Regions from separate parts of the Homo sapiens genome. Here region 2 is linked to region 1. The links come from fine-mapping of genetic effects on gene expression. A gene starts in region 1. The other region holds a variant in brackets. All regions are shown on one strand. Distances are from middle to middle. Region 1 holds the start of TEX35 (testis expressed 35). Region 2 has its middle 60 kb from the start of C1orf220.

Region 1 (2,912 bases):
AGGCCCCCAAGCCAAAATTAGCAGAAGGAGGTGGGGCACATTTTCACGGGGCTGGTGGATGTTGAGATGGAGTCAGTCATTTTCACTGTAATTCCCTTAGAGGAAGGGCATTCCTACCACGAGGCCATCAGATCTGAGAGGGCTGAATTAAAAGGTCCAAGGAAACTGAAAAGTTCCAGCCCCTCATTTATAAGTGGGGAAAGTGAAGCCTGGGAAGCTGGTGACCACCCCCAACTCCCTCTCCTTCCGCTGATGCAGTGGCAGACACATTCTCCTCTGGCTATGGTGGAGTAAGACCCACAGCTGTCACCAGTGTCAGGGCTGGGAAATCACCACCTAGGAAATGCATCAGAAGTGCTGCAGGTGGCTCCAGAAGTTCCAGTGGCCTCCAGGAAGGATAGTCCCAAGCAGGTGTGTGAAATGGGAGGGTAAGTGTGGTCAGTAGTGGCCTGCATGGGGATGTCATTCACATGCAATTTGCATTAGTTCCTGTACTCCTGTGCTGTCTGTCCTCAGATGTCCATGTTGGCCTTTTCTGTGCAACTAGCAGTTGAAATGAGAGGGAAGAAGGAAGTGAATGACCAGTGATAAGAGGAAAAGAGAAATCAATTTCACCAACCCAGATCCCCAGTGATTTTTTATCCCATGGGGTGCCATGTTCCTCTGACTGTCTACTTTAGCACAAACTATGGCTACCCGCAGAATGGCCTTTTCTTTAGTATTCTTCATTTGCCCGAAAAGCTTCTTATCTTTAGCTTCTTGTCCCAACCCTCTTCCCGGATGATAGAAGAACTAGGAAAAGAGAATTTTTAGGTGGGCAGGGGTCTGGGGGTGGTTGTGGGACAGGGGCAGTGTGAGGTCAGAGGCATCAGAAACCATCCTGCTGAGACTGGCTACCCCACCTCATACAGAGTAACCCAGGTTAAGTGAGACGGTGCATGCACGTTGAACCAGAGAGACTTCATGGCATCCTCCAGCCCAAGGTGGCTTCCGGTCCGAGGTGGGGTCGGTTCGCGCGAGGAGCGCACAGCAGAGGACATGGGCTGTGCGCTCAGAGGAGGAGCTGGCTGTCCCTGGAGGACGTCCTTCTGAGTCAGTAGGTGAGTCCTGCTGCAGAAGGAGCCACTGCTTCTGACGCGTGCCTTGCACTTCGACCGTAGCAGGCCATGATCCTCCTCAGTGTGGACTTTCCTTCTGTTGCAAGAGGGAGGCCTGGTGGGACTCTGAAACCTGGCCTGAACCCCTCATCTCAGTGGCCGAAGCCCCCCAGGCCTGAAGCTGTGGTGACGCTCTGGACCACCATGTGGGTCCTGGCATTGTGACCTCAGCTGTTCCGTACACAAAGGGGTGGTCACCCTGCCCTCACCTTGACCTGTAAGTTGCCTAGGACAGTGGCCTGGTCCCAGGGGCTGTTGTGGGGAGTTGAAGAACACCCTGGCCTCCTCCATCATGTCGGCCAAGAGGGCAGAATTGAAGAAAACACATCTGGTAAAAGAGAGACATTGCTGGACAGTGTGGGTCCTCTCTGAGCTCCTACTGAATGGAGATGGTGTCGGGGCAAGGGATACAGAGAATGCTCGCATGAATCTCTGGTTTTTCTTTCTCTGTACTGAGCATAAAGCAGCCTCTCAGTCTGGAAGGGGTGTGGGATTAATCCCTAGCCTTGGGGGTGGGAAGGAAAGAGGCCTCTGCTGCCTCCCTCTGGGGATGAGGAGCACTGCCAAGGGAGCACTCCCTACTCCAAGACCACTCATGGTTCCACGGCCCATGCCAGGCCTGCCAGGCCCACATCTAACCAGCAGGGCTAAGGCTCAGAATAACCTTATTAGATAAATATAATCATCACGTCGATTTTATAGATGAGGAAATGGGGGCTCAGAGAGGCTAAGCAACTCACCCAAAATAACAGAGATAGTAGAGAGGTCAGCTGAGACTATAGTGCAAATCTGCCTATGGCCAAAGCCCTTGCTCTGGAAACAACACTTCCGGGGCTTGCTTCTAGTTATCTTAAAGTGCTTTCTCCACGCTGGCGCCTCCAGCAGGGAGAGGGCTGCCTGCCAAATAGGCAGACACACGCCCATAGGAAGAGGACAGCACGACAAGATGTGATTTGTTAGGAATCGGATCCGGGTGCTGCGGGGTCTGTGAGCCTGAGCTCAAGCCAGTTGGACAGGCAGGGTTGCATGGTTGTGGGGGGCAGGGGGCAGGGTTCCCGTGCAAGGGCCAGATGTTCTCCTCCCCAATCCTGATGTCTGCCAGCCTGAATCTCAGTCTCCTCTTTTTGCAGAGCAAGAACTACAAGGCAGTTTGCCTGGAATTGAAGCCAGAGCCGACCAAAGTAAGAAGCCCTTTTGAGGCCATGCAGGCAGCCAGGCCTGAGATCCATGGGGAAGTGACCAGGAGTCAGGGGTCATTTGCTGATCCTAGTGGCCAAGATTTGTCCCAGGTGCTGGGGGATGCACTGAGAGTTCTTGCTCTCATAGAACTTCACACTGTAACCAATCAGATACATAAACGAACAAGGACTCATTCAGCAGTGTTACCTGCTCTGCTGGGAATCAAGACAGGGAGACATGTCTGAGTGGCTGCCGTGGAGTGGGTGGTAGGGAAAGGCCTTCCTTTGAGCTGAGAGCTGAAGGACAAGACTCTGGCTTTGCAAAGGCAGAGTAAGAGCCTTCTAGGCAGAGGAGGCAGCATGCACTGAGGCCCAAGGTGGGAATGAGCCTGGCTGTTCAAGGGACAAAAGGAGCTGAGGCCCCGTGGGCCAGCAGGGGAGTGGAACAAGATGAGCTGAAAGAGGGAGGAGGATAGAGGAACCTTCTGCACAGGTGGGGCCACCAGCTTTCCTCTTGCCTTAGCCCTAAGGGAGGAACAGAAACACAGGGGGATCTCTTCTGCCTCTGCACTTCCAC
Region 2 (2,912 bases), 90 kb after region 1:
TAGACGGGGTCTGATGATGTTGCTGAGGCTGGTGTCAAACTCCTGCCTCAGCCTCCCAAAGTGTGAGTCATTGCACTGGGTTGTCAGGAACTATTTTAGACGCTGCCTACTTCAAATTATCTCCCACACTCAGCACTCAGATTCTGTGAATACTCCTCCCATCGAAGGAGGCTACACATTCAGTTTACAACCCCAGCCTCCAAGATTCTCAGCCAAACACCTTCATGGCTCTGACATATTCTACATATGGAGTTAACAACATGAAAAACACAGTCAAATAGGAAAATCATGTTATCCAACAGAGTTAGACTGTGAAAAGAAGACATTGCATTTTCTCTATTTCTGTGGCATCTAACATCAGAGGACAGGGTAGACCAGATAGCTAGCTAGCTATCTGTTTATCTACCTATTTATTTTGAGACGGAGTCTTGCTTTGTCGCCCAGGCTCAAGTGCAGGGGCACGATCTCAGCTCACTGCAACCTCTGCCTTCCGGGTCCAAGCAATTCTCTTGCCTCAGCCTCCTGCGTAGCTGGGATTACAGGCACCCACCACCACACCCGGTTAATTTTTGTATTTTTAGTAGAGACTGGGTTTCACCATGTTGGCCAGGCTGGTCTTGAACTCCTGACCTCAGGTGATCTGCCCGCCTCAGCCTCCCAAAATGCTGGGATTACAGGCATGAGCCACCATGCCCAGCAACAGCTATCTTTTTAGAATAGCCATAAAAAATATGTCTTTGTTTAGATCACTTCAGAACCAAATGCTCTGAAGCCAGCCTATCCAGAGAGCCTAGATTGATTTGAGGCCAGTCCCTGCAATGCAAGGGGGGGTGTCACAACTCAAAGGCCACTCCTGAGCTTTCACTTTCTTTCCAAAATAATTGAAGTCAGTGGACTGTCCCCAGAGCTTCTGTGAGGTATTCACATTTTCTCTGGAGTGACGTGACTTTTGTAAGACATCTAAGGCATGTATATGTTATACTTTGGCCTGGCTAAATCTGGAGAATGACAGAGGTCTCCAAACCCCGAGGACTGTTGGGTTGATTTGAATTAAATGAGATGCCCCCTTTCTGCAGAAAATGGAAACTAACATGGCTATCTCTGTCCATTACACAAGACTTTTGTAAAACAGTCATGGTTTCTTTCTTAAAATCTGTTTT[A/C]AACAGTTGGAAGTCCATATTTCCTTCACTAATAGTCCTCCTATAAGTTGTGGTCATAAACCATTTTTTCAAGACTCAGAGAGCTCTTCTCACTTGGAAAGCCATCACACATATTCATCAATTTGGAATCTGCAGCAAAACTGAGCCTTTTCAGCCTCTTACCTATAGATAAAAAGGCTGAGATCCATGTTTCTACTTACAATTCCTAATTTTGAGAATCCCTGAGCAATACATTTTGATCTTGTGAGATTTTAACTGATCCCTTTCAATTTTCTTTTCACCATACTTAAGAATCTAAGGCTTACAGATACCTTGATTCCCAACTCTCAAAGCTTTTTATATGTACTTTCTTATTTGTTCTCTCAAACCTTACGAAAAGAGGCATTAGTTCTTTCCCAGAAGGTAAAATGCATAAAGTATGTGGACCTGGCATCAGATGAGCTGGTTTAGAATCTTAGATCCACCACTCACCAGCACTCAGACTTCGGGCAAGTTACTTAACCTCTCAGGGACTCAAAGAGTCCTCATCTGTAAAATGGGGTTACCCACACCTATCTCACAAAATTGTTTTGAGGACTAAATTCCACACATATATCTATATAAAGCATTTAGCATGGTGCATAGAGCTAGTTAAAAATTTTGGTTGCTTTTAAAGTTATGGAGAAACAAATGGAGATCCTGGGAGTGTCTCCCAATGTTCAACCATATAGGAACAAGAAGGGAATGGAATCCTGAATCTAGATCATCAGTCTTCATTGTAGTTACTTCACTCATCCCTTTTGCAAGTTATCACCAAAACATCCTGGTTCACCACTAAGAAACTCTCCGTAAGCTGAGCCTGAAATGTCACAAAAGACGTGCCGTTCCTGTGACCTCAAATAAGAACAGGTTCGCTCTTGATTTGTCCAGGTAAAAAGAGCATTGCAAGTGATAGATACAGAAATGCTTATGTACCTCCTTTTTGAATTTATATTAGGTTTTACATTTTAGCCTCTGCATCTGAATGGATGAAAAGTGAGCATATGTAACAGTGGGAAACAGGTTTTTCTGTGGAGGCTCCCAATAAGTAGCTCCCATAGACTATTCACAAAGCCAGGTATATAGTTGGAAATTCTTCTCCTTTACTTCTTGAGTAGCACGAGATTGGCTCAGGCTATCCAGAAGTAGCTTTGAGGTATAAGCAACCACATGGACATGGACTATACCCTGAAGCCCGGCTATAAGGGGCAGAGCACTGAAGGAGGCCAAAAGAAGTTCAAAAGCAGGGGTAGATCCCTGACCCAAGGGCCCAGGGCCTGCCTCTGGGAGTGCCTTGCCCATTTCATTAGATATGAGGGAGAGTCACAGAGCAGACTGGCCCAGTAGGTCCTCTCGGCCACTGAAGGATTATAAAGGTCTTTACCAGTTATAAAATAAAAGGGATGAATGCTGATTTTTCAACAATGTTAAATACTCAGCTTTGAAAGGAGGGTTGTATGGCACCATCAATCTCATCTGTCCCCGCTTTCTCTTTGAGTTCTTGCCTCTAGCACTCAGCTCCACCCACAGTTTTCCCTCCTCCCTGGGACTCTCTCTGCCCTCCCTCATGAGTGAATTGCTGCCCTCTTGGTCTCCTAGTTATGGTAGCACCTCCTAAATGCATCCAAGAACTCACTAGAAAACACAACCAAGATTACAAAAGAGACTCTTTCTTTTTTTTTTTTTTTTTCCAGACGGAGTCTCACTCTGTCACCAGGCTGGAGTGCAGTGGCG

Evidence for each region. PIP is the estimated chance that this variant, and not a neighbour inherited with it, causes the effect.
Region 2: its variant is fine-mapped to the expression of TEX35 in whole blood (TOPMed, PIP 0.93).

What each region holds. Positions count from the first base shown.
Region 1 is chr1:178,511,740-178,514,651 of GRCh38, forward strand. It overlaps TEX35 (testis expressed 35), which reads left to right and starts at 1,370. Exons shown (of 9, transcript NM_032126.5): 1 at 1,370-1,488; 2 at 2,288-2,338. The coding sequence starts at 1,450. LOC101928866 (a long non-coding RNA gene) reads right to left here and starts at 1,311. Exons shown (of 6, transcript XR_001738307.2): 1 at 903-1,311; 2 at 337-543.
Region 2 is chr1:178,601,409-178,604,320 of GRCh38, forward strand. No RefSeq gene overlaps it. Among named protein-coding and RNA genes, the nearest start is that of C1orf220, 60 kb to the left of the region's middle. The variant A/C (reference allele first, on the strand shown) is at 1,161.